Linked DNA regions of Homo sapiens. The protein of the gene in region 2 purifies or fractionates together with the protein of the main gene of each other region. This does not show direct contact. Each region holds a gene or a part of one and is shown on either strand. Other genes may lie near its edges. The genes, in order: KCNIP1 and LOXL1.

Region 1 (3,816 bases), on a different chromosome or scaffold from region 2:
GATTCAAAAGTGCCCTGCACAATGGTGGTGCCAGCATGGCAAAACCTGTTTCAGACCCTTATGGAATCTAATCCTGGTTTGCTACTCACCAGCTGTGCAATCTTGAGTACACTGCTTATCTTCCCCGAAACTCAGTTACTCCATCTGGGATTATAATACCTGCTTTCTAGAGCTGTTCTGAGACGTTGTGATGTTGCATTATCAGCCCTTCTTCCCCTTCCAGGGTGGGTTCATTTTCAGAGTTCTTTCCTGCTAAAGCTTTGGAGACTCCCACCTCTCACGATGAGGGAGGTGTCCTGCCCTGAGTTTGTCTCTTCCTCGAGAAGGAAGCAAATGGCAAGGAAGAGAGGACTTGGAGGAAGGGAAGGCTGCTTACCAGAGAGGGAGCTGGGCAAGATAGATTTCAAGGTCAGACTCACCTCCATGAGGGAAAAACTGAGCATAGATCTGCTTGAATGTGTCTTCGTTGACCACACCACTGGGGCACTCCTGTGGGAAGGGGAGAGAGTCAGCGGGAGGCATTTGAGGGCCAGCACTAGGAGAAGACTGGGCCCAGCCTTGGTGTCTGGGGTTCCTCATGATCCCCAGGGACAGGGACCTGTGCATTTCCACTTCTCCCAAGTAGTGCCATCTCAGGACTGGAGCTGCTTTGCAAAATGATGAGACATTGTCAGAGAATGGGCACTGTGAGGTGGAGAGATTTGGGGCTTTAAGATCAGAAAAACCTGGGTTTAAATCCTGGCTCAGCCAATACTAAGCTTTGTGACTTTGGCCAAGCCAGTCTCTGATCCTCAATATCCTTACCTGTAAAATGGGGGTAACAATAACTTCCCCAAGGGTATCTTATGAACCTATGTTAGGTGGTATTGAGTCCATGGTAGATGCCAAGCAGTGTAGATTTCTTCTCTTTTCTGGATGCTGTTCCCTCTGAGCCCAGTGCCTGCCTGGAAAACTTTCCCACAGGATCCTTCTCCAACTCGGCTGCCCACTGCTAATGCTGCCATCGAAGGAAAGAAGCCCTAATGGTAGGAAACTGGGCACTTGGCATGTGCAGTCAAGGCTAGTGTGGAAGGAAGAGGCATCCCAGCACCTGTCAGATAACTCCCAGGAGGGGCTGGAATCCCTGTGGGTCAGCAGTTTGGAGAACATTGAGGCTGTGGTCAGTTTGGAACTGACCCAGCTCAGCTCTACCTACAGACTGCACCTGGAGGGAGGGTGACCAGGTGCATGTCGCTGTAGCCCACCCCACTCCACACCACTCCAGGATTTGGGAATAAGATTGCACTCTGAGAGTTAAACTTAAAAAATAAATTAATATCCAGGATTGTATCTGAGAGCTCTCAAACTGGCCTGAGACTGCAGGAACACATTAATGTATTTAAAGTAACAACTAAACAAGGAACTCCCGTCCTCTGACTCCACTTTTGATTGTAACCTGGCTTCCATGTGGCTTCCAAGGAGAGCGGGTCCCAGCGAAGGGAGAGGAGTGTCTGTTTCCACTGTCAGTTCCATTTCCCAAGGTAAATTAATACACCGACATTCGGCTTACACATCAGTCTCGGTGAGCCTGGTTAGCATAAGTCAGCAGGGCCAAATCCCATTATTGTGGGGGCACCACCAGGTTGGAAGGTATGATTATGTTAAGGGCTAAGGCTTGACCCTGGGCCAGGGTGAATTCCTTGAGGATGTGCCACCCTGTGAAATTTCTGGGCAGTTGGCCGTTTACTGTCTCCTGAGGTTGCTCCATCCTCGCCTGGAGCCTTCCTTTCTAGCCAGGTGATCTCCCTCTCATGCCCCCTTTATAGAGCTGGCCTTCCTTGTACAGCCTCACATATGGGAAACGCCTTATGAGCTCCCTTGGCATTGGGGAGAGTGTAGCCTCACGTGGGAACCCCCCCCAGGCCTTCAGAGCGTGCACGGGTCTTACATTTTTGAAGCCTCGATAAAGGACCTGCAGCTCCCTCTTGGTGAAGTTGGTCTGGGCCTCGAGCTGCTCCAGTCCCTCGGGCCGATGGCAAACCATGGTCATCTCCAGCTCATCTTCAATCTTATCTGGAACCAGAGGAGATGGCATTGGAATGGTTGAGCTTGGGAGTCATTCTTGTTAGGTAACAATCTGGGCTGTCAAAAGAGTGGTGTCACGACCTGGGATCTAGGACTGTGGGCTGGGGTCACACTGCCAATGGCCTTCCTATCTTGAACCCCACTTCCCTGCCCTGTCAGCCTCTGCGTCAAACACCACACAGGGAGGGGGCTTCGGCGTTGGAGAGAAACATGTTCCCAGTGGAGGCAAAGGCAGAAGTGCTCAAAATAAATCCATATGAAAACATTTTCCTTGCTTTAAAAATAACTTCTTTGCATATTCAAATTGTTTCCCATGGAACCTTCTGAATATTCCAGAGACACAGGCAAGTAAGCAGAATGATAAACACCTCTAGACAGCAAAGGGAAACAAAATTATTTAAAGAAACAGTAAACTCTCACCATTGGGGCCAACTAGGAATGGATAGCATGATTTAGCAGAAAGTTCAAATTACGGCATGTTAAGTATTACTGATAAAAATCTGAATGTATTTACAGCGTATTGTTTTGTAATGTCTACTAGATAGCCTTAAATACTAGGAAAATATCTTAAATGGGAGCTACTTTGTACAAACCATTTGAAAGGCTCTAAAAACAGTTGTTGTAAGTAGTAGTTTAAGTATGTCTCCCTTATGGACTATAATGTAATATAAGATTGCATTAGTTATTTAGAAAGTGTCTGTCAATTAAAGCAAGGAATCTGCCCATCTTCCACTGAAGGATCACAAGGTCCAAGTCCGTGGAATTTTCAACGTTTTACCATCACAGAGGGGTAGGTGAGTGATTTCCTTTGGGCCCTGCCAGAATGTGTTCTATAAACTTACACCAATCAAGAATCAATTGCCATCTAACCTTCTCTGCCTGTTGTTGTCATGCAGATATTACCAAATCCATCTATTGAACAACTGTAAATCTGGGCTGGCAAGAATAGTGATGAGATGGGTGGCTGCTGGGAATATGCACAGACCATGTCTCATCCTGTGGCAACCCACAGCAAGCACAGGCTGAGTTGCCACATCAGGTGAGCAGGTGTATTAAATTGTGTGCATTTCTCTCATCAGTGTTGGTCTCATTGCACCAGATTTTCCCTGAAATTGTCACTTTCCCTTTTGAGACTTTGATCCCAATACAAAAGGAATCCATCAAATTAAGTTTGTATCTTGTACATATCCCCAAAGGTGATGGATGTTCGTGTGAGGCTCCCGTAACTTGGTAACAATTCCTAATTGCCATCTTTCTCATGTGCTGGGCAATACATATCACCTTATCCTGCTGGGACTAAGGCAGATGATTTGTTATAAATTAGATACTGTTTACGCCACAGAGACAAGTGGCCAATTTCCCCAGAATTCATAATTCTTACAGAGCCTTTAATTATGGTTGTGTTTGTAGCTAACAAGATAAGTAGCAATTATCTAAACGCTGAAGCATTTCTACGTAAATGAAAGGGCTTATTCTCAAAAAGAAAGAAAGAAAAGGAGAAAAATTCACATAAGTCTAATTCAGAATGCTTATATACATATTAATATTTTACATCTATTTTAACCCATTTTAACAGAGAAATTAATTGTTGGTTTGAATCTCCTAGCATTAGATCTAAAAGCATTTTTATTTTTAAAATGCACATCTGTTTATCTGTGCATATATTCACAAGAAACTTCCGAAGGGGCTGCAGAGGTTTTCACATCCCTCCTTTTGCCCCTTAGGAATTCCCTGGGTACGGCCCAGGTGGCT
Region 2 (3,816 bases):
GTCACACATTGAGTCCTAACCCTTGTCACACACTGAGCCCTAACCCTTGTCACAGACTGAATCCTGACCCTGGCCATACACCACACCCTGACCATAGTCATAGGCTTAATCTCTCATACCTGCCATCCATTAATAAGTACACACTTTTAGGGAAAGATACCTCTCTGGGCCTTAAGATCTCTACCACCTTTCTCCCAGTTGATGAACTAAAGCTGAAAGCTCTAGGACTAATTTTTTTTTTTTTTTTTAATGGAAAAGGGTTGCTTCGATCTGGAGTGTGGTGGGGTTTCCTTGTGAGCTTGTAAGCAAGGGGTCCCTCTGCAAACTACTTCACATGGGGAATCAGGAGAAAGACTGAGGACCCTACCCAGCAGCATGTGCCAAAATCCCAAGCCCAGATTTTAGGCACTTCTTCTACAATGGGGGCCTAGGGACTGAAGATGGCTCCTTTGAACCAGAATCACTTCTAATCTGTGACTGTTTAATCCAGTCCACTTGAAAAGGACACTAATGATCACAGCTGCTGTTCACTGTGTGCCACTGTGAACATGCAGACATCAGGCCTGTAGATCCTCATTGCCAGCCTATGTGGAAATACCTATTTTATAGTTGAGGAAAGTAGCTCAGGGAAGTAACCCAATGTCACATAGCGAGGAAGCTGTGGAACTGGGACTGCAGAGCTCATGGCCTTGCATCAAATGACTCTGCCTTCTGCTGGTTTTCACTTGGGACATCTCAGGGAGCCACAGGATGCAGCCCCAGATCAACACCCTACGGCCTGAGCCCCACCGTAAACACTCAGCTTGGGGTTGGCACGGACAAGGCTCTTTTTGATGGGCCCTGCTGCAGCTGCGTTCGGCCATCAAGGTGACCTAAAGTGCAGGTATCTTAGGTATCTCAGGTGGCCTTGCCTGCTCCCCAGGCAGGAAAGGGACGGAGCCAGGAAGGGTGGTGGGCAAACTCTTACTGGACAATTTTGCAGTTTGTTGCAGAAACGTAGCGACCTGTGTAGTGAATGTTGCATCTCACCACGTTGTTGGTGAAGTCAGACTCCAAAACAATATACTTTGGGTTCACGTGCACCTGAGGAAGAAGAGAAACAGGGAGAAAGGGAGTCTAGTCAGGGGGGCTGCACCTCAACTGCTCACCAGAGAAGGTGGTAAAGAGGCAGACAGACAGACAGAGAGGTGACAGAGAGAGGGAGAACAGAGACACACTGCTAGAGAGACACAGAGGGGAAAGAAGAGGCAGCTGGTAATCCAAGAAAACATCATCTAATCCCCCTTATCAGAAGATTGGATGTTTCCCTAGAGCTAGAGCCTATGCCAGGTGGGCCCCGCATGGGGCATTTGGGGTCAGAGAGGTTGGATCCTGCCCGAGGGAATGCAGTAATGAGGAGCTGAGCCAGGATTCAACACCTGGTCTCCCCAAATCCAAGGCTCAAAGTCATTCCCTATGCATCCCTGTCTAGGTGACTGATCGAGGGCCTGTCTGATCCCCTGCTCTGGAGCCCCACGTGCCCAACATTCACTGAGATGATGGCCCAAGTATGATCTGTGCTTTTTGTCTGAAAAGGAGCTGTTGGGATACAACACTTTTAAATGTTGGATTAACTAGGGTAGGGCCAGCTTTATTTGCAGAACATCTAAGAACAGATGCAGGGATGCAACTTTCAAATCCTGGTACACTCCCAAAGGGCAGGGACTGTGAACTGCATTGCTTATGTGGTTTGTGTGTCTAGTGCCTAGAACTCAGAGGGGACTTCCTACATGTTGATTGAGTGGATGAATGAGGAAAAGAAAAAATATACTGGACAACCCCAGGCCCTGGAGGAGCAAGCTTGGAGCCTGCTGAAGAGCACTCAGGAGGGAACTGCAGAGAACCGCTGCCGGATGCATCTCTCCACCTGCTGACTTTCTGCAGGGAAGGCCTCCGCCTGCAAACCTGGCTTCACTGCTCTGCCTTTACTGAGCTGCTTTTCTGCTTCTGAGTGGGTCCAGATGAACTGGTGGAATGATCCCTACTCATTTTATACCTGTGTGGAGGAGGCTGAGACATGGCTTCCCCAGGTGGGCCCATGACAACCTGGCCTACACGGATGTACCAAGTCTGGATGTGTGTTGTTAATATGCTTTTCTACTTTTCCCTCAACCAAGGGAAGAGGTGATGGAGTGAGTGTCCATTAGAGCAGGAGGGGTTCAGGCTAAAAGGGTCTTAGTCACAGGAGCCCTTGGCTTTGCAGGGGTCCCTATAAGGAGCTGAGGGCCTCTCATCTGTCTCCCAAATGATACAAAGTCTGCCCTGTCCGAAGACAGGAAGATAGACCACATGGCTCTCCAAGTCTTTCTTGCTCTCCCTGGTCCTCTGTCACTTAGGGAGACAGTATCACCACTGCCTCTGGCATTACCACAGCTGGGGCAAAGGTTCCCTGGGTTCTTTATGGAAAGAGAGGCTATGTCAGCCTGAGACCTAAATCTTCGGCTGGGAAGCCTAAACCTCAAGTGATGCCTCAGATGCTGCCTCTGCTCGGCAGCTGGGGAGAAGGGAACAGGCCCAGAGGCTGAAGCTTCTTTCAGGAACGGGGGGACATTGGACATGAACATCAGGTTGGAGGGAAAGCCCCAGACCCAGAGGCCCACCTTGAGGATGTAGTTCCCAGGCTGCACGTCGGTTATGTCGATCCACTGGCAGTCGATGTCCGCATTGTAGGTGTCATAGCAGCCTGGGCTCAGGCCCTGGGAAAGGGACAAGAGGAGCGGCTGTGATGCTGCTTGTTTCCCAGAGCCACCCCACGCCCACCTTCAGGAGTTTCTGGCCCACCTTCCCCTGGGTTTCTCCCCTGACCCTGGCCCAGGGCAACTGCTCAGGGTGGGTCCACACCTTCCTAAAGCCACTGGCTAGATGGACCAGAGGAAAGACAGATATCTAATAGCCAGGTGGGAGGGACGAGATGGATGGCAGAATGGATAAAAAGAGACAGGACAGATGGACAGTTTGTGGATATTTAGGGTGGCTGATGGAAAGAGGGATATGGGTGGGTGAACAGGCCAATAGGACGTGTTGCTCTCCAGACTGTTGCGATGTTTCCTTCTCTCCACGAGCAGATCACCTGGAATAACATGGGAAAGGGGCTGGGGCAGGGAGGGAACAGTCCCTGCAGGGCAGTGTGGCAGCCTGAGGACTGGTGAGAAGACCTTCACTGTGAGCAGAGCTGAGTGGCCAGAAGCCTTGGCACTTGCCGGGCCTCAGCGGGCCTCGCTCTTTGCCTCCCCAACTCCTTATCCTCCCATGCCCCAAACCCCATCTCTCCAGCCCAACCTGGGTATGAGAGGTGCATGCATAGCGCTTGAGGTTGCCGAAGTCACAGGTGCTGTCCTCCAGGCAGAAACTGGCCTTGTGGCCCTCGGCCACCTTCTTGCCTGTGGCTGCATCCAGTAGGTCGTAGTGGCTGAACTCGTCCATGCTGTGGTAATGCCTAGGGGCAGAGGAGAGAAGGAGAAAGAAGAGGGCCTAGTCTTCCCTGGGCCTCTCATCCTGTCCCCATCCTGAGATGGGCTCAGGTGACCCTGCTGTGGCACAGCCTCCTGGCTGGTCTAGGTTCTCCTGTCTCCTGAGTACTGCGGGGTGGCCCCTCTGTGCTCCCCACCTAGCTGGGTCACTCCAGGACAGCACATGCTCTAGACCCCTCACTTCCTTTTTGGGCTCCCACCTGTAATGGCCTCACTGGGCAATGCCCTGTATTCTAGACATTTCCATCCCTGATTGAGACCAATCCTTCTATATCCATCTTCCAGCCTAGCTTTGGCTAAGGCTTCT

The links.
Region 1: the proteins of LOXL1 (region 2) and KCNIP1 purify together in Homo sapiens (affinity purification with mass spectrometry; one large-scale study listed by BioGRID and IntAct). This does not show direct contact.

The regions. Positions count from the first base shown.
Region 1 is NC_000005.10:170,716,994-170,720,809, reverse strand, and holds part of KCNIP1 (A-type potassium channel modulatory protein KCNIP1), read right to left. Parts: intron 2,053-3,816; coding exon 1,928-2,052; intron 490-1,927; coding exon 420-489; intron 1-419. UniProt on the Homo sapiens protein: Regulatory subunit of Kv4/D (Shal)-type voltage-gated rapidly inactivating A-type potassium channels. Regulates channel density, inactivation kinetics and rate of recovery from inactivation in a calcium-dependent and isoform-specific manner.
Region 2 is NC_000015.10:73,946,726-73,950,541, reverse strand, and holds part of LOXL1 (lysyl oxidase homolog 1 preproprotein), read right to left. Parts: intron 3,476-3,816; coding exon 3,319-3,475; intron 2,736-3,318; coding exon 2,640-2,735; intron 1,084-2,639; coding exon 968-1,083; intron 1-967. UniProt on the Homo sapiens protein: Catalyzes the oxidative deamination of lysine and hydroxylysine residues in collagen and elastin, resulting in the formation of covalent cross-linkages, and the stabilization of collagen and elastin fibers.